4 linked regions of the Homo sapiens genome follow. The protein of the gene in region 2 interacts with the protein of the main gene of each other region in a pairwise test. Each region holds a gene or a part of one and is shown on either strand. Other genes may lie near its edges.

Region 1 (7,029 bases), on a different chromosome or scaffold from region 2:
GAACTAACATTTTTGTTTGAGGGGCCTTTATCCATTCTTACACAGAGGCTAGGATAATTTTAGAGCATTAAGATAATATGCAAAAAGAGCAAACGTGTAGCTTTGAAATTAACTCTGGGATTAAAAGGAAAGCATGTAAACAACTAGCTATGTTTTGTTAAAGATTTATAGGAGCACTGCGACCTGATCAAGGACAAAGATGTTCCCAACCTCCTAGGACCTTCACTGGTGCCCAGATGTCACTGGTCCTTGGTTACCTCTTGATCCCAACAGCCTCTTTTTCCCACTGCCCTTAACATAATTAAGAACCCGAAACCTGTACTGACTTAGACGGCACTTTAGACACTTATCTACCATCTTCCTGGTTTGCTGGCTCTCCAGATAAACCTGCCACCAACTCTTGTCTCTCGTATTTGGCTTTTGAGCAGTAAGCAGCCAAATCTGGGTTCAGTTACAACTAGACATAAAATTTTTAAAAGAAAATCTAATTTTATTTCTCTGTATCACCAGTCTACAAAGGAAATGCAACTTATTTCTAGTGAATCACATCAGCTGCTGTAGTCTTACTGCAGCAATTCAGGGCAAAAATTAGCAGCAGACATGATAAGAAAAAAAGAAAAAAGAAACTTCCGTGCATCAAAGGGCACAATCAGAGTGAAATGGCAACCCACAGAATGGGAGAAAATATTTGCAAGTCATATATCTGAAAAGGGGTTAGTCCAGAATATATAAAGAACTCCTGCAACTCAAAAACAAAAAAAACAAATAACCAGGTTTAAAAATGGGCAAACGAGTTGAACAGACATTTCTCTAAACAGGATGCACACAGCCACAAACATAAAAAAAAAAGGTATTCAAGGTCACTAATCATTAAAGAAATGCAAATCAAAACCACAATAAGATACTACCTCACACCTGTTAGGATTATCAAAAAAAACCAAATACGTGTTGGCGAGAATGTGGAGAAAGTGGTACTCTTGTGCACTGATGATGGGAATATAAAATGGTCTAGCCACTGTGGAAGACTGTATGGCAGTTCCTAAAAAATGAAACATAGGATATCATATGATCCAGCAACTCCACTGCTGGGCATATCTCCAGAAGAATTGAAAGCAGGGTCTTGAGGAGAGATTCATTTGTACACCCACATTCATAGCAGCATTATTCTCAACAATCCAAGTGTCCAGTGGAATATTATTCAGCGTTGGGAATGAAGGAAATCCTGTCCCATGCTACAACATGGATGAACCTTGAGGACATTATGCTGAGTCAAACAAGCCATTTCTAGGCCAGGCACGCTGGCTCACACCTGTAATCCCAGCACTTTGGGAGGCCGAGGCGGGCAGATCACTTGAGGTTAGGAGTTCGAGACCAGCATGGCCAACATGGGGAAACCCTGTCTCTACTAAGAATACAAAAATTAGCCAGGCATGGTGGCTGTAATCCATGGTGCTTCAGTAGTGCCAGCTACTCAGAGGCTGAGGCACGAGAATCGCATGAACCCAGGAGACAGAGGTTGCAGTGAACTGAGATCACACCACTGCACTCCAGCCTGGGTGACAGAGAGAGACTCTGTCTCAAAAATAAATAAATAAATACGCTATTTCTGGCCAGGTGCAGTGGCTCAAAACTCTAATCCCAGCACTTTGGGAGGCCGAGGCAGGCAATATGGTGAAACCCCATCTCTACTAAAATTACAAAAATTAGCTGGGCATGGTGGCCCATGCCTATAATCCCAGCTACTATGGAGGCTAAGGCAGGAGAATCACTTGAACCCAGGAGGTGGAGGTTGCAGTGAGCCAAAATCGTGCCATTGCACTACGGCCTGGGTGACTTTGTCTGAAAAAAAAAAAAAAAACAAAACCAAATAAGCCATTTCTGAAAAGCCAAATACTGTATGATTCCACTTATGTGAGGTCCCTCGAGTAGTCAAATTCATGGAGATGGAAAGTAGAAAGGTAGTTGCCAGGGGCTTGGGGGAGGAGAAATGGGGAGTTAGTGTTTCATGGGGACAGAATTTCAGTTTTACAGGATGAAAAAGTTCTAGAGATCTGTTACACAAAAATGTAAATGTACTCAACCCTACTGAAGTGGACACTTGAAATGGCTAAGGTGGTAACTTTTGTGTTCTGTGCTCTCTACTACAATTAAAAATAGAAAAAAAAAATTTTTAAGTAACCAGAAGCTGGAGGACCTAGAGCATGGGGGGACTGTCACCCGCAGGCTGTCCTCATAGGAGATTTACAGTGGGGAAGGGAGGGATAGAAGGCTAGAGGACAGCAGGTGCCTGGGGTGCACCTCGTCACCTTTCCTGACACCCCCAAACCACCGATGGCCCTTCCAGGGGGCGAAGAGACCCACTCTCTTCATAAACATCAGCCCCCAGCACCCACCACCACAGAGCAATGTGACTCAGCCCTGCAATGGCAGGGTCAGTGTCCCAGGTGAAAAGAATCGGGAAGGACAGCTTATGGTCACGGACCTTAAATGGATGAGGAGTGAGCACAGGAAATGCTGTCTGTTAGTGAATGGACTGGCCAGGATGGATTGCAGGCTGCTTCCAGCCCCTGTGCCAGGCTCCCTGTGGTGGCAAGACGCCCCCCCTCCCCAATCCCTGCACCCTCTCCCTTGGCGGAGCACCGCCTTGGAAACCCGAGACTCCATGCCGTGCTGGCGAGTTCCCTCCGGGACTCACGTTCTGCCCCTAAATCCCACCCACTGCTGCCACATAATAGGTTGCCCCCTCCCTAATGCAGATGATTGACAAGCCAGTCTGACAGGGCCTGCTCACAAGGGCTCCCTCCTCCAGGGTGGAACCCAGGCAAGGAACAAGGTCCACGACCATGCAGTCACAGGCCCTGTCCCCAGGCTCCCCGTCATGCACACAGCCGTGTCCAGTGACACCAAACTCTACCGACTCACACAGAGTCCAGTGGCTGCAAGTCCCATGCTTTGCGTATGCTGTTCCTTCCCCTGCCTGGAAAGCTCTTCTCAGCCCCATTCCCCACCTTGCTTCCGGCTGAAATTCCTCGACTGAGGGGACCCCTGCTCCTTCAGGAAGCCTCCCGAGCATGCAGCCCACCCCCCCACGCCATCTCCACACTATTGCCCCACCACCAGCTGATCAGCATTCTCCCTTCCCTGGGCCTTCCCTAAGGCCATCCCCTGTCACCTTGGGAATAGTACCACAGCTAGCCAGCCTCCCCACACAGGCTGCTCGTGCAGGTATCTGAATGAATAAGCACTCCCCAGACGCATCTTCCCCTGCCAGACTGAACTTGGACCCCTGCCGCTAGGTTCTGTCCCCTGCTCCACTTTCCAGCCCAGGACAGTGGCCTGAGACCTAACATGATGCTTGCACACTCTGGCCAAGCGGGGGCTCGTGCATCCATTAAATGAAGAACTTGTGTTGCAACAAGAGCCAAGGCTGCAGCCCTGGTGACTCATGACCCAGTCCTGATGGCTGGATTCTACCCACTTCCTCCTCTGCTTCAGGTCAGGGTCACGGTGTTACACACTATGGCTCCTCCTGTTTACCTGCCGCCTGCAGGCCTGAGCTCATGAATAGCCAAGCAAAAGCCTTTGCCCTGAAAACTAGAGTTTCACAGATGTCACCTATGTATCTACTGCAGACTACGGCAGACGTCACCTTGAGAAGGAATGACACGTGCTTCAGAACGTTCTCTCCACTCTTCCACCCACGATACGACCTTACTGGCTAGGACCGTGTGCCAGGTGTGGACCTTTCTGGACCCCAGCTCCTCTTCCCCTCTCTTGCCCCTTTGCTGGGGCCCCGACACCCTCCCATCTAAGGCTGTGCCCTGCCCCAGGACTGACCTGTCCTTTGAGATTAGGAAGCCCTGGCTGAACAGGTCAAGTGGCTCAGGGTCAGCCTACCCTCAGGGAGCAGACTCTACAGGGGCAAGCTGCAGGAACCACCCTGCTCGTGAGTTCAAAGCTCGTCTCACAGCTTACCCTCTCCAAACCTCGGCCTCCTCTCTCCTCAAATGGGTGCTGTGAAGACTGAAGAAAATCGTGCCTGGCCACCTGTAAATGCTGTGAGTAACAGGCACTGCCATGGCTCCAGGATCATTGCTGTCATTATTACCCTACCAGTCCTGTGGGGAGGGCAGGTGCGGGTTCTACCATCTCATCTTTGTTCCATAGCAAGCCCCCCAATCTTGCATTCCAGCTCCAGTAACTCAATCCTTACCTAAGTCGGGTGACTGATTGAGTCTCTGCCCAATTTTTCTGCTCAGTTCCCGGGCCCTCTGAGACCAGAGCCCCTCCATCGCTCCCTGCCTTGCAAGCCACCCAGCAGTGTGCCGGGCCATCTCGCCAGCTGGCTGCTGCACAGCCAGGTTCTGCTGGCCGGAGACCACCAGCAGCTTGAAAGCAGCCAGGATGTGAGTATTTAGACCAGGGAAAGCAGCAAAGCAGACTTTTATTTTTGTTTCTTTTTCTTTATTTTCCCCCTAGGCAGCTGGTTTGCCAGTATCTCCTCAGTCATCCCAGAGCCAGAGCCCCACTCGTTGGGCCCAAGTGGCAGCTCTGTGCCCAGGCCCGGCCACCCCCTAGAGAGCCTGTGTCTAGGAGGCAGCTGGCCTGCTGGCCCCTGCACACTGCAGAGCTGGGCACCTCCAGAGCCCATCCTCCACACTGCCCTGCCTGCACCCACACTGGCGGGCCTCACTTGACCCACACAGGGACTGCAACCATAAAAGCAGCAGAGCCACTTGCCCCCAACCCCGCCCCGCCGAGCCTGGGGCCTCTCCAGGGTCAGGGCCCACTCCAACAAAGAGCATTCTCAAATGCCACCAGGGACACCTTCCAGACAAAGCTGATCCAGTAGCATGCTGGCTTTGAATCCAGGTCAAATACCCAAGATGCACCTTTTTTCCTATTTTGTTTTCTTATTGTTTATTTATTTATTTTTGAAACAGGGTCTCGCTGTCACCCAAGCTGAAGTGCAGTGGTGTGATCAGGGCTCACTGCAGCCTCAACCTCCTAGGTTCAAGTGATCCTCCCACCTCAGCCTCCCAAGTAGCTGGGACTACAGGCCCATGCACCACCACCACACTGGATAATTTTTGTATTTTCTGTAGAGACAGGGTTTCACCATGTTGCCCAGGCTGGTCTCAAACTCCTGGGTTCAAGTGATCCTCCCGCCTTGGCCTCCCTAAGTGCTGGGATTACAGGCATGAGCCCCAGGCCCAGCCCAGAATGCACTCTTAAATGTTGCTGGAGTCAGAAATTTTGTTCCGAGTAAATCACCAAGGGGAGTCTGGGGTCCTGGCTGCAGAAATGTCATTTCTGCGTCAAAAACAACCAGCAGCCTCTGTAAGAAGCCCTCCCTGCAAAACCCCAGTAAGCATTCTTGAAATGGTGAGGGTGGGCCCTCCACCCTGACCCACCCATAAAGCCGGGCTGGGGCGGGCGAGCACACACTTGGGGAACCCACCCTGGAAGAACCAAGGCAGGCACCGGAAGCCCCCAGGGAGGGTTTTCTGATGCTGCTCTCAATGGGCTCATCCTCAGCTCTCAGGGAAAAGTCAAGAGTCCTGAGTGACATAGCCCCCCAGGGTCCCAGAAAGCTAAGGATTCATGAACACGCGCTGACTGTCAGAACTGAAAAGGCCTTAGAAATGCTGGACGATGGGCTGGGCGCAGTGGCTCACGCCTGTAATCCCAGCACTTCGGGAGGCTGAGGCAGGCGGATCACCTGAGGTCAAGAGTTCGAGATCAGCCTGGCCAACATGGCAAAACCCCATCTCTACTAAAAATACAAAAATTAGCTGGGTGTGGTGGCATGCACCTGTAATCCCAGTAATAATCCCAGCTACTCAGGAGGCTGAGACAGGAGAATCGCTTGAACCAAGCAGTGGAGACTGCAGTGAGCTGAGATCGTGCCACTGCACTCCAGCCTGGGCGACAGACTGAGACTCTGTCGAGAAGGGGGGGGGAGGGGAGGGGAGGGGAGGGGAGGGGAGAAGAGAAGAGAAGAGAAGAGAAGAGAAGAGAAGAGAAGAGAAGAGAAGAGAAGAGAAGAGAAGAGAAGAGATGAGATCCTGGATGATTAACACTCCCAGAAAAAGCCAAATGTAGCATCCATTCATCTCTGCCTGCTGTCCAAACCACACACAAGTGACGGTAAGGGAATAAAATGGGGGCTAAATCCACAAAGACAAAGAGACCACAGAGGAAAAGATAAATGAAGGATCTCATGGTGACAACTAAAGACAGTGTACGTGACAACCCCAGCACAAAGAGGGTGCCTAACGCATGGCACTTAACCACTATCACCAAATTTTAATAGCGCAGCTCAAATTTCAGTTTTAGTGTCCTTGAAACCCAAGGAAAAAAAATATGGATCTTTATTTTTCTATGTAGAAACTCCCACTTACAAGTCTGGGCTCAGTGTTTTGTTGCTACAGTGATATTTTTCAACCATGTCTTTTTAAATGTTTTCATTATGAATCCCCAAAATATAGTTTGTCGGTAAACTTGAGGTCAAACAGCAGACTGATTTTAAGATGTGTTCAATGAAGCAAAAATGCCAGTATTTGCCTTCTTAGAGGGACAAAATGGTCAAAACTCAGTAAGAGTGGAGAAAAGAAAGGGAAAGAATAAATGAAAGCAGAAGACAAGGAGAAAAGAGGTGAAAATAGGTGGGCTAAGGAGTAAAGGAACTGGGAGAAAGGACCGAAGGTGTCAGGAGAGCTTGGTGAATAACAGGCATTTCCTTCCACCTGCAGGACGCTAAAACCACACTGGATTCGCTGCATTATCCTTCAATGTCTCCTCCCCTGACTCCCTCATCACTCACCCAATTATCTGCTACCCCGACTCCTCCCTTGCCCCTGGTCCACCCCAAAGGCTATGGCCCAGGGAGCATGGGGAGGGTCCCCCAGTCCCACCCTCAAGGCACTGTGGGAGCTCAGGCCCTGACTCAGGACCCCTGAGCTCTGATCCTGCATCCTCCCTGTCTCAGTTAAGGGACCTGAGGGACGCTTTTCACCCTAAATCACC
Region 2 (5,724 bases):
ACCAGCCTACCTCATGACACCCTCACTAGTCACGTGTTCTACCATAGCTTTTGACTGCCAATCAAGATTATGTTCAGTTGATGACAAGCAAAAGACAGGTATACCTGTTCATACTCTCCCTTAAGGCCTAGAACCCTGCTCTCAGTTCTTGGCTTTGCTTCAGATTGTAAAAGTCCACTGAGATTTGGAAAAGAAATTACCCTGCCCTGGTATCCAGTGGACAGGGCTCTGTGGGACACTGCCCTATCCCTAAGTCTCTTAAGGAGCTATAAGAAAAGCCAGGTTAACTTTGATCAACATGGCCTGGGCCCTGTAAGGAGGTTTAGCTGTCCTTACAGCCATTGTGATTTGGGCCAAGAGGGTCCAGTAAAAAGGAAAACCATTTCAAGCCTTTATAGCCTGTGTCAGAAGACTATGACCATGTGGGATCTCCTTTAGCCCTGTGAAGTCCAGGGCTTCTGCCCTGAGCTGCCCTTCAGTCACACCACACAGAGACCATGCATGCTCTCAGAACTTTATTAGGTGGGGATTGGGCAAGAGAAAACCCCTGAAACAGTTGCCCACGTGGTTCAAGACAACTAGAATGGAGATGTGTTGCTTGGAGATACCTTAGATTTTTAAAGGGGAGCTGACTGGCTGAATAACTCAGATTATTTTTTTTTTTTTCATGGTCAGCCAGTCTCTAGTAAGTCTCTAGGGACATGACCAGACCAGAAGCCCCTGTTCTATATGAAGACAAACAGGTGGCCATACTTGGGTGGAGGGATACCGCTGCTATTCCCAGATGAAGATTTGGTGGAAGGAGACCATGACAGATGACAAACGGAACAGTTTCTCAAAAACAGAGGTATGAAGTAATTACACAGGAAAGAAAACAATTTCCAAAGGAGTGAGACAAGTCGTGATTCTTCATTGGTACCTGACCCCTATACCCAAACAGCCTTGAACCAGCCCTTCCAGAGACTGCCCCTAGTGGCCCACTGGGCAGTGCAGGCTGTGAAGAAGACCTGAAGGCAGATGGGGTGGGGGTGCTTATTTTGCTACAGTGGAGAAGGGGCTTGAATGGGGAGGGCAGACCTGGCTAACATCTGCCGCCATCCCCCAACTCCCCCCCAGACTTCTATCACATTTACAAATACATACATAAATACATTACATACAGTAGCCAGTCTGGGAGGCAGACTCCCCACAGAGGCATGGCTGACACATGTCGGGAATTCTAGGAAAGGGCACTGGGCTCCCAAATACGTGCTCGTGTGTTCTCTCCTGCCCAGGATAAGCCTTGCCCCAGCCCACCCCTCTCTTCTGGGTTTAGTTTGTCCAGTATGGAGAGTTGCCGTAGGCAGGTTTGGAGGCTTGAGACTTGGGCTGCAGGGAGCTGGGCTGGCTGCGCTGACCCGAGCCACTCTGAGGAAGAGGAGAAGGGAAGGCTGTCAAGGCTGGAGCAGAACCCCTGGCCCAGAGTAGGGTGGCTGCCTCCATCACTGTACTCACCTGTGCATCCTGCGGAAGGTGGTGGTGCAGCAGCTGTGAGTGGGGCTGCTGGTGGGCTGGCAAGATGTGTAGGAATGGTGGGGGTGCATAGCCAGGGGCCGCTCCCGAGGCCAGGGGCCCAGTGGAGCCCAAGACCGAGGGCAGGCTGAAAGGTGGAGGCGTCCCTGCATGAAATCCCTGCTTGTCAAAAGTCTACAGGGCAAAGAAGACAATGGTGAAGGTCAGGTTGGGCTGTAACCTCTCAAAAACCTATACACCCAACCCACCTTTGTCCCTCACCTGTGTCTTATTGTAGACAGAACCAGTCATATCAGGTAGACCAGTGGTGCTTGAAGACACTGATACTCCTAGGAGGAAAAGCAGTTGTTCCCCACAGCAGTTGTTCCCAGCTCCAGGCTCCCCACCTCCAGGATCACTCAGGGGTTGCCCTGCCTGAGAGGGGATCAGGCAGGAGCCCACCACTCCAGGCCTTATCCTGGAAAGGAGAGGTAAACACTACCTTTGCCAGGCCCAGAACCTGCAGACTTGTTTGGTGCCTGCGATGATCCAGCATAGCCACCTTTGGAGTAGTCTCCTGCTGCTGTCCCCTGGGTCAGGTCGTCATAACCTAGCGTGGCAGGGTACAAGAGGCAAGTGTGAGCCAGGCAAGCCTGTCTAACCCCATGTGTCTCTGTCTGGGAAGTACCCCTCACCTGTACTGTAGCCGTGCTGGCCATAACCACTGGCCTGCTGGAAGGGAGGTGTGGGAGTGCTGAGGTTCACCCCATGTTGCTTGGCTGAGGCTGGAGGGACCTGGGGGGGCAAGCAGATGAGGTATTAGTGTAGGAAGAGGCAAGCTGAGGCTGGTCAGGTACCCCTGCCAGAGCCTAAGGCAGCAGGTGACATACCCACAACCACAGGGGACCTGTGTTTTCATTAGTGCAACACATGCTGGATCTAAACACAGCAGGGGAAAAGTGACCTTGTCCCCAGCCTGAACAGTTTCTGAAGACCAGGTAAGACGGAGTGGAATCACAACCCTCCCTCCCTGCTGGAAGATAGGTCCCAGGTTTCCACCTGCCAGCAACCCAAGGCCAGGAGACACAGTCACACCCTCTGAAATACTCACAAACATGGTGGGGCCATACTGGAAGGCACTGGGCATGCCTGTGTAGTAGGGAAGACCAGTGTAGCTATAGCCAGGTGGCAGTGCAGGATTCACGAAGGGCTGCTGGGCTGTGTGGTGGGTCTGTGATTGGCTCTGCTGTGGCTGAGCTGGTGTGGTAGCGGGTGCAGGGGATGCAGAGTCCCCACGGCCAAACTTTGTGACATCACCTAGGAAAGAGCACTGACTCCAGCCACTGCCCTTCCTCCAACCAGAGAAAGGCCACACTGGCTTCTGCAAACAGGAACAGGTCTGGCTGCCAGCTCAGCACAGGCTACTAAGAGGCCTCTCTCAGCTTGCTGTTGCTGCTTCCCAGCTCCTGGAGTTCGCGCTAGGCCGGCCCCGGGCTACTCCTCATCCATTGAGCAAACTCACCTGGATATGGATTATTAGCTAGGCTCCCATCTCGGCTGGCAAGCGCTGTGGGTGCAGCAAAGGGAATTCCATAGTAGTCCTAGGAGAGACCAGGGAGGCTTGATCAGCGACTGGCCCTGCTTGACTCCCAGGAGAGCAGAACCAGCACATGGAAGTGGTGACGCCACACTCCTGAAACAGACTCCATGCCTGAGAGCCAGCAGTCCCAGGGAACGCCAAGTAAATGGTGCCCCTCGGAAGAGTGTGCAACTAGGCGGCCTGCCTAACACATAAGCACACAGACCGGCCAACCCTGCAGCTTCACCAGGCAGAGCTGCTGGAGACCAAGCCTCACACATCCATTTGACACCACAGGCAGGTGCTTGTGTGAATGCCTCGGGCTGAACCAACTTCGCTGGCTTTTCTGTGTGAGAGACTAGAGCAGCTAGGAAAGCTGACTAAACAGAGCAGACCTGAAAAAGGAGGCAACAGAAGTGCAGGGGCCTGAAAGGTTTAAGGGGGGACAGGGGGCAGTGCCAGGTAGGCACGGGAATAAGCAGGACCCCAGGTGAAGCCCAGAACTGGCCTGTCACCACCTACACTGCTCTCAAAACACTGACATGGCCTAGGACAAGCTTGTCCAACCCACGGCCCATGACAGCTTTGAATGTGGCCCAACACAAATTCGTCTTTCTTAAAACATGAAATTTGTTTGCAATTTTTTTAAGCTCATCAGCTATCTTTAATGTTAGTGTATTTTATGTGTGGCCCAAGACAATTATTCTTTCAATGTGGCCCAAGGAAGCCAAAACATTGGACACCCCTGGCCCAGGACTTGGGGGAAGTATGGCAGATACAACAAAGTGTGGAGACAGAGACGGCAAAGCACAGTGGAGCTTCGTGGAGGAGGGGAGGTCTGACCTGACCCTCACTCACCATCCAGGGCCTCGCACTCCTGGACACACCTGGCCCCTGAGGAAAGGCAAAGCCCTTGGGCTGTGCCCGATCCCAGAAAGGAGCCATCCTGGCTGGGAATGGCACTCACACCCTCCAGGAAACCTCCCGGAAACCCATAGCAGCCTAGAACCCCCGGAAGAGGCAGAGCTGGGAACACACAGAGCTGCACAACTGAGGACGGGAGCAGAGAAAGCCCAGAAGGGGGAGCACTTTCACAGAACACGAGAATTCTCCAGGCAGGAACTAGGCTCACAAGCAGCAGAGGTGAACAAACAACCCGAGGGATAGAAAGAGCAACATATCTCAAAAGGTGGGCTCCAGAGGGTGTTTTCTCTAAGGCACAAAGTGATAAAAGCCAAAAGAGTGCTGTGAATAAGTGTGGAGACCACGGAGAGCCCCTGAAGCAGAATGAATCCCGGGGCTCAGCACCACCTCCTGCAGTTTGGGCCTTTGGCCGGCAGATTAAAGGGCTGCTGGTTTGCACAGTGGGGAGAAGCCGCTCCGCTCCCAGGCTAGGCCTCTGCTTCTGGAAATACGGCCAGCCAGTGGAAAGGGCTACTCTTCTGAAACAAGAGCAGCTCCGTCAGCTCTTTGTGGTGCAGCAGAGAAGGGAGCAACACCCACGGGGAAGAAGGCATCACTGCACAAGGGAGAAAGCCTCTTCCTCCAGCAACAGGAAAGACTGTATCCAGCAGAGGTGGTGTCCAAACTGCCTGCAACTCTCTGACAAGTGCCCTGGGAAATGGCAGAGCAAGAAGACAGTGGCTCCCAGGAGGAAGTCCTGCCCATGGGCAGGGCAAGGAGCGGGCCTATTCCCCTCTGTCCCCACAGTTCTGTTCATGTGGCTATCCCAGGAAAGGCCCACACTGCATTCTGGCACCAACGGTCAGAAGAAAGAGGCAACCCTGGTCTCAGAGTAAGGCTGCAACCACCAGGGACGTCCCAGGGCAGGCATTCTCACAAATCTAGATGGGAGGCCAGACCCAGAAGAGACCTTAAAGACCATCAGCTCAAGCCACTCACTCAGCTGATTGCAGAAGAGCAGTCACTGGCCATCTCAGACCAAAGACACTATATGGTACTCTGAGGAAGAGGAAGACAGTATAAAACTCCAGGGCCACGTAAGCAACCTCCATGTCTTGTGTCATATGGTTTTTCTTTTTAAAAAAGAGAGAGAAAACAAGATGGAGGAGGGAAGATAAGGACCAACATTTAACAGGGGACATGGCCTACCAGGGCCCCAGGTCCCAAAGGCCTTCATGTTTCCCAGGGATGAGCACTGGATACTCTGTGCTAAAGCTATGGTCACGCCTGGCACAACCGCCAGATGAAAACAGCTTTCTCAGTAGTGGTGCTGAGAGGTTCCTCAGGCAGAGGATCCTAAGGGCCAGAGAGTGTGGCAGCCAAGACCATAAGAGGGGGGACATGTAAAAGATTCTGAACCCTCTGCTCCGACCAGTCCATACCCCACTCACCACTGGCAGCCGTGACTGCAGCATCTGGAGCTCGTCATAGCCATAGATCTGTGTGAGAACCAGAAAGTGTATTTTAGGAACCACATACCACACCCTGGGAAGCCCAGGTCCATCTAGGAGTCAAAACAAGGTTGGGGGGCTCTAACACACCCGGGAATGGGATCTGGATTAGCTGTTACGGGAACAGATCCTGCCTTCACGGAGTCTAGATGGAAGAAGACCACCAGGGCTCAGTGGGGCAGAGACGGGGGTGCTCAGGGATGGAAGGGCAGCTCAAGGTGGGCAACCTGGGCCCAACGC
Region 3 (7,029 bases), about 55 Mb from region 2:
AGCAAAAAACAAACAAACAAAATATATATATATATATATAGATGTGTGTGTGTGTGTGTGTGTGTGTGTGTGTGTGTGTGTATTGGGTCTCTATCTCATTTCATATTCAAAAGTACCTTCAGTTGGAATTAAAGTCTACATGTGAAAGATAAAACTATAAAGCTAACAAAAGAAAATATATATTCAAATCCAGTATATTTGTGATTTGTGGGGGAGAAAAACTTTAAAAGTCAAAACCATCAAGCACAAAGGGGGAAACCTGATGGATTCGGATGCATCCCATGAAAGACTTCTATTTGATGAAGAGTATCACAGACAAAATTATCAGATAGATGAAAAAAGCAAGAGAATACATGTGAAAATTCTGTTGCTGAAAACCTCAACAAGAAAGCCCAATCTGAAAGTCAAAAGAAAAACATGGAGAAAAGATAAGAACATAAAATTTACAGGAAGAATCTGCTAATTTACTAATGAAGTGCAACCAAAGAATTACAAATCAAACAATGAGGTATTCCCTTTCTCCCTACTCCCACAAACTAGCAAACCTAGAGACTCTCTCAAGGAAGAGCAAGGATGTTGCTGGTGTGCGCCTTAGTAGCTCAGCCATTCTGAAAGCAAATGCAAGCCCTAGGGAAATTCAATGTACGTGTACCCTGTGACCAAAACGCCACTCTTGGCTCCTGTCCCAGAGATACCGTCCCCGGGTACAGAGAAAAACATGCGTGAGAGTTTGTAGCAGCTTAGTCATCCTTCTCAAGAGAGCTCAGTAAGTGACATGTGGACTGCATACGTGACGGGCCCCAGGCAGCCCACCACAGTAATGATCTGATAAACAGAAACCACCATGGACAGATCTCAACAACATATACAGTGGTGGAAAAGGAAGAAACAAAATGGGATTTGTGGAACAATAACATGTTTGCAAACTTCTTTTTTCTTTTTTTGAAACAGAGTCTTTCTCCATCACCCAGGCTGGAGTGGAGTAGTTGCGATCACAGTTCAGGGCAGCCTTGACCTACGGGGCTCAAGCAATCCTCCCACCTCTGCCTCCTGAGTAGCTGGGACTACAGGCAGTCGCCACCATGCCTGGCTAATTTGCAAATTTCTAAAAGGCACAAACACAAAATATGTTTTCTCAGAAGTACATATATGTTAAAAAAAAAAAAAAAGAAGGTGGATTGGAAGGAGATAGGTTACATTCATGAGGAAGTGGCTGTCTCCGCGGAAGGGAAAGAGGAACTAGCTACTGGCTGGAAGTGGGAAGTGGCTGCTTCTGCAGAGACAGAAAGGGGAATTGTTCAGAGTGCCAGGAGCTGGGGTATTCAGGCAACTGAGTCTTGGCACCTGAGGTAATAAACTGTCTTGGGTAACACCCCCACCCCCGACACATGCAGTTTAATTGTGTTCCAGTCCAACTGAGACAAAGGCTTCATCCCTCCCTGTCAATCAGAAAATGCAATGTTCTTAACTCCTATTAAATAACTCTACCCTGCTTTGTTGTTTTCACTGGATAAAAGGTTTTAAACAATCCTGGAATTTCACTCAATGGTTAGGTTGATTTAACTGCATTTATTAAACTTAGCAATTCTTGGACTATGCCCCAGGTAAAGATGAATGTCTTTCTTGACGGGAAGATGAAAAATTCAGCCAAACCTACGGGATTATTCAGATACAGCTGTAGTGCCAGGGATGGCCAACATCAGTAGGAGTTACTTCTCTAAACGGGAAAACAAGAGACTTAGCAATGGGGGTTTCATTTACTGATCATCACATTTTACAGCCTTAGAACAAAATCCTCAGTGATTCAACTTTTCGAGATAAGCATTCAAGATAAATATTAAAAGCCTAGGAGCCTGTACTTCCTTGTCTACTAGAAATGTGTTTGTAAGGAAAATGCTCTCAGTTTCTGTATTTATTTACTTTAAAGGACATAAAAGTCAAGGCTTTCAGCCTAGGCCATAATTCTAAAAGTTTTAAAACTTGTGTGGGGCCCTGACCACTGGCTCCTGGCTCCTGGCTCTGGCCTGATGACAGGAGTTGTCTGTCCCTGCGTTCCCCTGGAGGACTCAGTAGGCACTTGTGGATAGAGGTGGGAATGTGGAGGGCATTTGACAAAGTGGAGACTGTTTAAGGCAGGTCTGCACCCACTGGCAGGTCCGGCCCCACCCCCACTGGGTGCTCACCGTGCCTTCTGGGTCCACGAGCAGCAGGTGCTTGGCCTGGCCATTGTGCATGCCCGTGAGGACAAAGGAGCCCGGGTTGGTGGTGCTCTTCCTGACCAGGAAGTCTCCGTCTTTCTCCAGCAGCCCCTCTGCCTCCTTCCTGCTCATCTCTCCTTGGTACCAAGTCTCGGCTTGCAGTTCCTCCAGCATCTTGGCATCTGGGGCTCTAGGTGACACAGGGCTGATGCACTCCACGGAGGCTGCCTTGCTTAACACGGGCCCCAAGGGCTGGTTCTTGAGAGCATCTTCAAAAGGTTCTGTCATCAACAATATTGACCAGCAACAAGTCAATCCCAAGAAGAGCAAATGATAAAAAAAAAAAAAAAAAAATACAGTGAGAGAGATGGAAATGCAAAGGCAACTCCTCCAGAAGGGGAAAACAAAAACCAATGGAGACAACTAACTGGCTGGTAATATAACAAGAGCCATCATAACAAGCATTGAAAAGCACAGCCCAAATTTTGGCATGACTTTCTGATGAGTCTGCTTTCCCAAGACAGCTGGGAGTTGTGCTATGTGCCAAGGAGTCAAGCACACCCTTTGTCTAGCTAGCTGGAATGACTTCATTTTTGCATGCTGCAAGAGGCCATGAATATCACATGCCACGTACTTTCTCTGGAACTTCAGCCAGCCTCTTTAACAAATTCTGAACAAAAATCTGCCAATACCAAAGGGAAAGACAAGCTACAAAGCTTTGATTTTATGCAAAACCTGAGCCCAATCCACCAAAGGTTTATTTCAAAATCTTTGCATCAGGCAAATTTTTAAAAGAGAAAGCTGACGGGTGTTGGGTTCCTCTTGTGTGACTTGCCCCAGGCTAGGAGCTCCACCTTCCCTTAACCTTCACTTGTTTCCCTGTGGAACGAGGCTCTCACATGAGTGCCTGAGACCATACTTGGTTTCATCCCCTTCAGAGCACACTTCTCAGTGCAAGGCATGTGTGAATGGTGAGACTGCTGCTCTAACAAGAAATACCAGCAGCAAAAGAAGTAGCCAGGCATGTCTAACTAAATCCCGATGTTCGATTTTCACATAAGGTAGTGTGTATGAAAGGACTCTGAAAAATGCACAGTGCTATGCAAGTGGAAGGTAGTGCGATGGTTATTTCAGACTACGCTGTCTACCCATAAGCATACACATACATACAACATAAGCAGCACAAGAACAGGAGTGGTTCTTTCCTGAGCATAACTACACCCTCAGAGCCCAGCATTGCTCCTAGCACACAGTTCATTCAGTATAGTCAACAGATGCTGTAAAATAAGCCAAACTTGTTCGATGTTAGTACAGCGTGGGCAGAAGTGAGGTGAGTAAATGAAACTAAAATTAGCTCTTTTTGATGCTTATTAATCTTTGACAGATTTGGAGATAAAAATAAGTTAGAACCATTGGCAAAAATTATGTCTGTGGAAGTTCTTTTTCATCTGACTTTTTTCCTGATTACCTGGAATTGTCATTTGTTTTATACTGTTTCTACATCATTACCACCTTTGCTATCATCTACATCATCAACATCGTCAGCATCATCCCCAACATCGCCACCATCCCCACATTCACTTTTATTGGCACCACCACCACCATCAGCATCACCGCCATCGTCGCCATCGTCATCACCATTATCACCATCATCCCCATTGTTACCATCATAACCATCATCATCACCATCATTGTCACCACCATCACTGTCACTACCAGCAACAGCAGCAGCAGCAATAGCATCACCACCATCAACACTATCATCACTATCCCCTCACCATTATCACCACCACCATTACCATCAGCATCATCAGGATCATCACCATTATCACCATCATCCCCATTGTCATCATCATCATCATCACCATCATTGTCACCAGCATAACCATCATCATCACCATCACTGTCACCAGCAGCAACAGGAGCGGCAGCAGTAACAGCAGCAGCAGTAGCATCACCACCATCAGCACCATCAGCACTATCACCATCACCATTGCCACCACCACCACCACCACCATCGGCATCACCACCATCTCACCACCATTATCACCATCACCACCACCACCTTTGCCACCAGCACCATCATCAGCATCATCACCACCATCATCACCACCACCAGCACCATCAGCAGCAGCATCACCACCATCATCATCACCATCATCATCACTATCAACACCACCACCATCAGCAGCATCATCACCATCATCATCATCACCACCACCATCACCACCACCACCACCATCAAAATTACCATCAGCAGCAGCACCATCATCACCACCATCATCACATCAGCACCGCTATATTTAGATCTACTGGTTCAAAATAAAGAACACAGAGTGCTGGCTTTATTTAGTTCCATACTTTTCAATAGGCACCAGCCTTTCTAAGGCTCTTTTCACATCCTGTTTCCCCTCCTTAGGTTTTGAAAGCAGGAGGAGAAATTAACTGGTGGGAAAAGGGTAGCTCTGGTTCTCATTTTTTCATCCCAAACACCAGCCAATCTAACTTTCCTTAGGGTCCGTGTCCAGGAGTCATTGGTAAATTGACTATATTAAACAGTAAAAATGGTCTAACCAGACATGGAACTATTAAACTGCAGTTTGGAGGTACTATAACAACTCCAGCAAAAGCTTGGAGAGCCACCACTGTGCTTTGCATCTTGAAAAAGTGGCTTCACATTTCTCAAGCTGTTTTCACATTTTTAAAAATAAAGGCACTGGCGGGACTGAATTAGGTGATCTAGCATTGAAGGTGGCTTCAAGCATTAAGATTCTACAGTTCTTGCTTAGATTATTTTTGTTAAGTCAAAATGGGGGTCCAGTGTGTCTGGGAAGTCAAATTTGCTGGAGAGAAACAGTGTTGTTTTCATGAGGCTGCCTAATTATAAAGGCACTTAACACTGTCCTCACTCATACAAAATACCACAAATCACAGATATTGGACCAGCAAGGCTGCCTTTCACAAATGATAAAGTTAGTTAACTTCTAGGATTCTTCGTTTCCTTCTCTGTAAAATAAAGATAACAGTAGTTATCGTAATACCTACCTGTAAAAATTTAAAAATAAGTGTTTAGCACATGGTAGAAAATCATTCAGAACTAGTCTCCATTCCCTCCCTCTTCAGCCTATAAAATTCTCGAGGAATATGAAAAGCAAATTTAGCTCTTGTGAGCTTGTGATGCTCTTTCAAAATTTTTTAACAAAAATTTTCACTTTCATTAATCAGTTCATGAACGATTTAATTTCCTCAGTCTATATGACAAACAGAAAGTCTGTGGTACACATCCCACTATAATGCTATCTGCAATAGATTCCTATTACTCTCCTTATCCTGTTTAGTTTTCATAACTGAGGAGCATGTACCACTACCTGGTAATAGATACCTCCACGAGGTAGAGACTTTGCTGGTTTTGTTTTCCTGTATATCTCCATCAAGTAGAATAGTATTTGACAAATGGTAAGTGTTCAGTAAATATTTGGAGTGAGGTAAAAGGTGAGCAAGAGAGAAAAAAGGAGAGAAAAAAATGAGAGCACAAGTGGGAGGAGAGGAGAAAGAGAGAGAAAACCCTCATAAGAGAGAGGTGTGTTGCAATTTCTTGCCTATATGTTAAATGTTGGTCTGCTTCATAGACCTAGAGATCCGTGGAAACACGGGCCATGCCATTTCATCTTTGCATCCTTAGCAACTAATACAGTAGCTGGCACATAATAGCCAATTACTATTTAAATGAATAAATAAACATTTGTGTATGTATATTGTCTCAATACATTTGCAGATCTTCAAGAGGAACGTCAATTCCAAAAAGAGGGGGAAATTGCTCTGTCTCTTGACTACAGAGAGGGCTATAATCCTAAAGCCTTAAACAAACCCAATCATCACCCAGAAAAGTACAGCTAATCATCACCATTAACCAAAACCCTACTATCAGAAAATTCAGTAATTACACAGATTTCAAATAAAAGGCAGGATAAAAAGCAACCTCAAAAGAAAAGAAAACCAGAGACAAACAGAAACCCACTCATGTCAAAGAGGTCTTTCCTTGGGCTGCTCTCAGCACTGCTGACCGCAGCCGGCCAGGCCTGTGGTGGGATCTGCTGAGTGTTGACGTAGGTGGGTGCTTCTCCCGTGGGGGCCACGTGCAGTTTCCCTTCTGGCGTGCTGTAGATGTCCGAGGACCCTGCAACAAGAAAGTGAGCCCCTTTTCTTTTACGATGGTGACACTATTCAAGCCACCCAGCCTTTCACAAAGAAGCTCTTCTGCCTGCAAATGGGAAACCTCCTCCTTCGGATTCCTATGGGTGATATTCTCCTCTTCTGAGCTTGTCACCACACACTGCTGTGACCCAGCTAGGATGTTTTCCAGTCCTTCATATCAGCATGGGGTCTGCCAGCCAATGTCAGGGTGGACACCTTGATGGCTCCACTGTGATGGCCTTAGCAAAAATTTTGGCCCTTGCTGCCCCAAGACCGCAGGAGCCTGGCAGGCAGAACATGCCTGACCTCCTCTCCTTGACAAATGCTCCAAGATCAAATAACTGAGCAGAAGGACCACAAGCCTTATATTAATTGCTCTTGTTTTCTTTTTAAATATAAGCAAATGCTTTATAAATTAACTTCATTCAAGCAATACAATAGAAGCTCTGTACCTCCTAAGGAACTGAGAGAGACTCCTTCCTTATAAAATAGGGCTGCAGTTACTGCCCCTGGGTCTGTGAAGGAAGCCCAGGGTGGGTGTGCAAGTGAAGAGCCCCCTCTGCTGAGGCAGTGATGCTGCCTCGATGTGACTTCACAGCTAGCCAATGGGTGTGCTGAGGCTAGGCCAAGGCTGTTC
Region 4 (7,029 bases), on a different chromosome or scaffold from region 2:
CCTTGAAAAGTCTCAAGAGATCATTTTCTTGGGGCAGGAGGAGGAAGGAGTTATGCTTGGAAAATGTTCAGCGATTATAGATAACATTCAGGAACATCTTGGCCTTGAGAAGAAGAGATATTAATCCATTATTTTTCCCTTTATTTAATAGCTGTTGAATGACTGTTGTCTGCTAGGCACTGTTGTAGACTCTGGGAATATGGAAAACATAATCGTTTACTTCCTACCATCAAGTGGAAAAGACAATAAAATGTTATAAATTTTTAATGTCTGGTAGTGTTAAGTGCTTTGAAGAAAAATAAAGCAGGATAAGAAGATAATGCCAGGGGAGCCATTTTAAATTAGATGGTTAGGAAAGATCTCTCTCAGTTAACACTTGATAAGGAATCTGAATCATATGAGGGGTATCAGAAAGGGTCAAGACAAAGGGAAAACTTGAAGTATGGGAATAGCAGGGGTGAGTGAAGAAGAGAGGTAGGAAATGAAGTTAAATACTTGGCCAGGGACTGGAGGCCAGATGATTTTATAGGTCTTGCTTTTTGGGATGAGAATGCATTGGAAGGTTTTGAACAGAATGATACTAGGTTTTACTTAACAGTGTTAACTCTGGTGTTCTGAGACTAGATTAAAAGTGGGCAAAGGTAAAAAGCAGGCAGACTGGTTAGGAGTCTTTTCCAGTCATTTAGGCAAGTGATGATGGTGGCTTGAATCAAGTTGATAGCAGTGAAGGTGCTGAAGTGGTTGGACCCCAGAGTTATTTTAAAGGCAGTGGCAACCATATTTTCTTGGCAGTTTGGATGTAAGGTTTGAGAGAGAGAGATCAACCAAGATTTTTTTGTCTTATACAACTCGAAGGAAGATAAAGAAGCCTCTAGGAGAGGCAGGTTTTAGGTGGAAGATCAGGAATTTATTTTTAGATATATTAAGAAAAATCTAAATGGTCATGTCAGATGAACAGTTAAATATGAGAAAAAATAATAGTAGACGTAAAATAAAAGCTTATTTTATTATCCCTACAGTAAAATAATGTTGCCTCCAGACCATTTTAACATAAATATGGTAACATGGGGATAATGAATCTTTTGGAGGCTAGAGTTTCTTAGCATCTAATAGTAGCTTTGCTCTCAACTTTTACGGTATGTTTTGTTGTTTAATTATCAAAACCACTTTTATCAGTCTTTCTCTAGAGTTGTATATATAGAACATCCTGGAGTCCACCATGAACGGACAGTTGGATCTAAGTGGGAAGCTAATCATCAAAGCTCAACTTGGGGAGGATATTCGGCGAATTCCTATTCATAATGAAGATATTACTTATGATGAATTAGTGCTAATGATGCAACGAGTTTTCAGAGGAAAACTTCTGAGTAATGATGAAGTAACAATAAAGTATAAAGATGAAGGTAAGAGTGTTTTTAAAGCTATTTTTTAAAGTCTTTTTAAAAAAAAAAAAAAAAAGACAGAGCCTCTGTTGCCCAGGCTGGAGTACAGTGGTGTGATCATAGCTCAGTGTCACCTCAAACTCCTGGGCTCAAGCAATCCTGCCTCGGCCTCCCAAAGTGCTGGGATTACAGGCATGAACTGCCATGCCTGACCTTAAAGTCTTAAGTATTGTATGTGTTATTTTGCCCATTTTTATTGGACTCTTTCCCATCCTCTCTTCACGGTAGTTGAGACCTCACTTTCTTGTATTGAATGTGATGTTCCTATAGTTACTATAATTCTCTCATCAGTTAAAATTAGCTAAGTGGGGCCGGGCGCAGCAGCTCATGCCTGTAATCCCAGCACTTTGGGAGACCGAGGTAGGCGGATCATTTGAGGTCAGGAGTTCAAGATCAGCCTGGCCAACATGGCGAAACCCTGTCTCTACTAAAAATACCAAAAATTAGCTGGGCGTGGTGGTGTGCGCCTGTAATCCCAACTACTCGGGAGGATGAGGCAGAGAATTACTTGAACCCGGGAGGTGGAGCTTACATTGAGCCAAGATCGTGCCACTGCACTCCAGCCTGGGTGACACAGCAAGACTCCGTCTCAAAAAAAAAAAAATAGCTAATTGGTTTATTAGAAGGGAATTTTAAGTGTTAGAACATTTTCACATACATTTTTTTTACAAGCATTATTTTCTCCTTTTGTCCATATAATTCTGGTTTCTTTTAGCTTAAAAAAATTTTTTTTCTATTCTTATTTCCCGAAATGAAAGGTTTTAGTATGTATTGAATGAAAAAGGATTTTATGGTCAACTAAGTAAGGGAAAGCTGGTTTAAACAAAGACAAAAGTGTTTCTTTATTGTAGGAGTTTTCAGATTATGTAATATGCTTATATACATTTTCAGAAGTTAGTAGTATGCAGTGTTCCCAGACTCATTTGTTGACAAAATTATCTTTATGGAAATAGGTTTTGAATGAAAAATGTTTCGGCAAACACACTGAGTAGAATTATAGTAGTAGACTGTATTTCCTATTCTTCAACCTGCCTTCTTTGTTAATATCTCTGCTGAAATTTTCTCTTTAGGTGGTTACCAGTGTTTTTTACTGTGGAACTTACTTGCAGTGTATTTAATCTTGACCTCACTGTTTAGCACTGCTACCCACACCATCCTTGTTTTTAAATACTTTTACCTCTTAACATCTCTGACACTGCTTAACCTAGTTTTCTTATCACTAACAGTTTTTTCTCTGTCTGTGTTAGGGTTGGGCTTAAAGTAATGCCAGCAGATATAATAGAAATCTTAAAATCTGAGTGGTTTAATAGTTGAGAAATCTTTCAGGGATCCAGGTTGAAAGAAGCTGTTACCTTCAACACATGGCTTATAAGCTCACCATAGGCATTGACATTGGCAAGCAGATGAGTGAAGACAGAGTATGAAGAATCATATGGGAGATTTTACTCACTAGGCCTGATGGTGTTGTATGTCATTTCTGCCCTTATGACATTGGTCAGTACCCAGTTACATGGCTTTGCTAAGATGCAAATGGGTTGGGAAGTATAGTCCCTGGCTGAGCAGCCACTTAGCACAACTTATACTGTGGAGGAGAAGTGTAAATCACTGGTGATCAGTTAAATTGACCATCTAGCTAAAGGTATAATTCTCCTTTGTTTTTGTGATGTGTAGTCTAAGAATACCCAAAACAAATTTTTGAGAGTTGCCCATGTTAAGAAACAATAAAGGATAGTACTTTTTTCCTGTTTTCTTATGCTTATCATACATTGATTTGCACCTCTGTGACTTTGAAATGTGTGTCTTAATTTGATCAGTGAATTTTTTTTTTTTTTGAGACAGGGTCTCACTCTCATCCAGGCTACAGTGCAGTGGCATGATTATAGCTCATCATAACCTTTAACTCCTGTCCCCAGGCAATACTGCCAACCCGGCCTCCCAAAGGCATAAGCCACCATGCCCAGCCTACAATTCAGATTTTTAACTTTTTTTTTTTTTTAGCAAAGTCCCAAGAGTACTTTTTTTTTTAAATTTTGTTTTAATTGACAAATAATAATTGTACATATTTATGGGGTACATAGTAATGTTTCATTACATATAATGGGATTAGATCAGGGTAATTCGCATATCCATCACCTCAAATATTTATTTCTTTGGGTTAGAAACATTCAATATTCTCCTTCTAGCTATTTGAAATTATATAATATGTTATTGTTAACTGTAGTCATCCTATAGTGCTATAGAACACTGGAACTACTTCTATCTAGTTGTACTTTTGTGTCTTTTAATAAATCTCTCCCTATCCCTCTTTTCCCCTACCCTTTGCAGCCTCTACTGTCATCTGTTCTGCTTTTTACTTGTATAAGATCAACTTTTTTTAGCTTCCACATATGAGAGAGAGCATGTGGTATCTTTTTAACTTAATGTCTTCCAGTTCCATCCATGTTGCTGTGAATGACAGGACTTCATTCTTTTTTATGGCTGAATTGTATTCCATTGTGTATATATACCATATTTTCTTTATCAGTTAATCTGTTGTTAGACACTTAGGTTGATTCCATATCTTGACTATTGTGAATAGTGCTGCAGTAAAATGTGAGTGCAGATTTCTCTTCAATATACTGGTTTCCTTTCCTTTAGTTAAATATTCAGTAGTGGCATCGCTGAATTGTGTGTTAGTTCGATTTATAGTTTTTTGAGGAACCTTCATACTGTTCTCCCTAGTGGCTGTACTGTTGACATTCCTACCAATAATGTGTAAGAGTTCCCTTTTCTCTTCATTCTTGCCAGCATTTGTTATTTATCTTTTTGATAATAACCATCCTAACTGGGGTGAACCTTGTTGTGGTCTTCATTTTCCTGATATGTGTGCATTTCCCTGATGATTTGTGATTTTGAGCATTTTTTCATATATTTATTGACCATTTCTATGTCTTTTTTTGAGAAATGTCTGTTCAGATCATTTGCCGATTTTAAAATCGGATTGATTGTTTTTTAGCTGTTGAGATGTTTGAGTTCCTTCTATATTCTGAATATTCATCCTCTGCCAGATGAGTAGTTGTATTTCCTCCCATTCTGTAAGTTCTCTTTTCACTCTTGATTGTTTCCTTTGCTGTGCAGAAAAGTTTTCCAGTTTGAGATAATCATATTTATTTTTGCTTTTATTGACTGCACTTTTGAGGTCTTATTCATGAAATCTTTTCCCGACCTATTAAAGAGGTTATCCTTTTCCTAATGAGTGGTCTTGTCAAAAGTCAGTTGGCTATAGATAACATGGATTATGTTCTTTTGTTCTATGTGTTCTATTGATCTATGTGTTTGTTCTCTTGGTCAATGGGTCTGTTTTTATGTCAGTTCTGTTGGTCTGTGGGTCCGTTTTTGTGCCAGTCCATGCTTATTACAGCTTTGTAGTATATTTTGAGGTCAGTAAGTGTGACACCTTCAGCTTTGTTCTTTGCTCAGTATTGCTTTGACTGTCTGGGGTTGTATGTAGTTCTGTACAAATTTTATGGTTTGTTTTTAAATTTTTATGAATAATTTTATTGGTAGTTTGATAGGGATTGAATTGAATCTGTAAATTGCTTTGAGTAATTTTGTCATTTTAACAATATTTGTTCTTATATAAGCATGGGATGTCATTACATATGTATGCTCTTTGGTTTCTTTCATCAGTGTTTTTTTTTTTTTTTGTAGAGGTTTTTCATCTTCTTGGTTAAACTGCTTCCTAGATATTTAAAAAAATTTTTGTAGCTGTGGTTAATGGGATTGCATTTTTTATTTTTTATTGTATGTGTATAGAAACACTACTTATTTTTGTGTACTTATTTTGTTTCTGGCAGCTTTATTGAATTCATTTATTGGTTCTAAGGGTTTTGGTAGAGTTTTTAGGTTTTTGTTTATATAAGATTATGTCATCTGCAAACAGGGACAGTTTGCTTCCTTCCCAATTTGGATACCTTTTATTTTTTTCTCTTGCATAATTGCTCTGGCTAGTACTTGCTTAACTGTCTTTTTTTTATTTTTTATTTTTTTGTCTTGAGACAGGGTCTTGCTCTGTCTCCCAAGCTGGAGCGCAGTGGTGTGATCATGGCTCATTGAAGCCTTGAACTCCTGGGCTCAAGCAGTCCTTGCAACTCAGCCTCCCGTGTAGCTGGGACTGCAGGCATGTGCCACTGCACTCAGCTTCTTATTCTTAATGTTTATCAAAATGGGGGTCTCACTGTGTTGCCCAGGCTGGTCCTGAACTCCTGGGCTCAAGCGATCCTCCTGCCTTGGCCTGCCAAAGTACTGAGATTACAGGCATGAGCCAGTGTGCCTGGCCTTTAACTGCCTTTTTTCCCACTTGAAGATGCTTTGCCTTTATCTCAAACTGACCTCATTGACTGGCTTTCTCTTAACTACTGTTTAGGGCAAAGGTCAGCAAACATTTTCTTTAATAGATCAGAGAGAATAAATATTGTAGCTTTGTGGGTCACATAAGGCCTCTGTCTCATCTTTTTTTTACAATGTAAAAACCATTTTTCATTCACAGACCTATAACAACACAGGGATTTTGTCCGTTGGTCACAGTTCATGGACCCTTAGCTTGAGGTGTCCTCGTTGTAGTTTGTCTTCCACATTTAGTTACAACTTTGTATTTCATGGTTTTTTTTTTTTTTTTTTTTTTTTTTGAGACAAAGTCTTGCTTTGTCGTTTAGGCTGGAGTACAGTGGGGTGATCTTGGCTCACTGCAGCCTCCACATCCCAGGTTCAAGTGATTCTCCTGCCTCGGCCTCCCAAGTAGCTGGAATTATAGGCACACACCACCACACTCGGCTGATTTTTGTATTTTTAGTAGAGACGGAGTTTCTCCATGTTGGCCAGGCTGGTCTCGAACTCCTGACCTCAGGTGATCCGCCCACCTCAGCCTCCCAAACTGCTGGGATTACAGGTGTGAGCCACCGCACTTGGCCAAAAAGTTTTTGATTGTTTTGATTTGTGTCCGTTAGATTCTGTTAGTAGAGTGGAGGGATGGCTTAGGTAAAGTTCCTGCCATCAGAGATACTCTGTTTCTGTTGTAGGATTCAGAAAAGAAAAAAAGAACAGGAAGTTTTCTTCTTTTACATACATACTTTATTTTCTTTAAAAAATGTGTTTATGAAAATTGAACATTAAACAAGTATGTTATGGGAAGTGGGTCTGGCTATAAGGAGCTAAAAACAGTTATAAAATTCTCAGTTTTGTCATCTTTGCCCAAAATAAATCCAACTAATTAGTGTTAAAGTAGGTGCAGCAGAGCATCCCAGAAGTAGTCTTGTGGCCTCCCCAGGACAGAACTCCTCCCCACCCAACTGTTTGTGAAGACACCCTGCAGAGGTCCCTGATGAACTCCTTGTCTCTGGCTGCTTTTCTGTTCTTGCTTTCTTTAGAGAATGTATTTTTCCCTTAGCCCTTTGAAAGCTTTTGAGACACACAGTTGGTATGCCAATTATAGCATTCTTTATCCCTGAGATCTGGGGGATTTCACGGTCATAAATACACACTGTTTTGAATATATAAATATTTTTCTGGGGAGAGTTGATTGTTTTCATCTTAATATCAAAATGGTCAG

Evidence for each region.
Region 1: the proteins of UBAP2 (region 2) and ASB13 interact in binary tests that used the Homo sapiens proteins (3 or more experiments, as listed by UniProt).
Region 3: the proteins of UBAP2 (region 2) and SHC3 interact in binary tests that used the Homo sapiens proteins (3 or more experiments, as listed by UniProt).
Region 4: the proteins of UBAP2 (region 2) and TFG interact in binary tests that used the Homo sapiens proteins (3 or more experiments, as listed by UniProt).

What each region holds. Positions count from the first base shown.
Region 1 is NC_000010.11:5,656,579-5,663,607, forward strand, and holds part of ASB13 (ankyrin repeat and SOCS box protein 13), read right to left. Parts: intron 1-7,029. UniProt on the Homo sapiens protein: May be a substrate-recognition component of a SCF-like ECS (Elongin-Cullin-SOCS-box protein) E3 ubiquitin-protein ligase complex which mediates the ubiquitination and subsequent proteasomal degradation of target proteins.
Region 2 is NC_000009.12:33,921,193-33,926,916, forward strand, and holds the end of UBAP2 (ubiquitin-associated protein 2), read right to left. Parts: intron 5,473-5,724; coding exon 5,425-5,472; intron 3,093-5,424; coding exon 3,014-3,092; intron 2,809-3,013; coding exon 2,603-2,808; intron 2,287-2,602; coding exon 2,187-2,286; intron 2,102-2,186; coding exon 1,994-2,101; intron 1,842-1,993; coding exon 1,774-1,841; intron 1,687-1,773; coding exon 1,495-1,686; intron 1,408-1,494; coding exon 1,312-1,407; 3' UTR 501-1,311; downstream 1-500. UniProt on the Homo sapiens protein: Recruits the ubiquitination machinery to RNA polymerase II for polyubiquitination, removal and degradation, when the transcription-coupled nucleotide excision repair (TC-NER) machinery fails to resolve DNA damage. May promote the degradation of ANXA2.
Region 3 is NC_000009.12:89,035,810-89,042,838, forward strand, and holds part of SHC3 (SHC-transforming protein 3), read right to left. Parts: intron 6,376-7,029; coding exon 6,217-6,375; intron 2,480-6,216; coding exon 2,184-2,479; intron 1-2,183. UniProt on the Homo sapiens protein: Signaling adapter that couples activated growth factor receptors to signaling pathway in neurons. Involved in the signal transduction pathways of neurotrophin-activated Trk receptors in cortical neurons.
Region 4 is NC_000003.12:100,712,467-100,719,495, forward strand, and holds part of TFG (protein TFG), read left to right. Parts: intron 1-1,176; 5' UTR 1,177-1,219; coding exon 1,220-1,403; intron 1,404-7,029. UniProt on the Homo sapiens protein: Plays a role in the normal dynamic function of the endoplasmic reticulum (ER) and its associated microtubules. Required for secretory cargo traffic from the endoplasmic reticulum to the Golgi apparatus.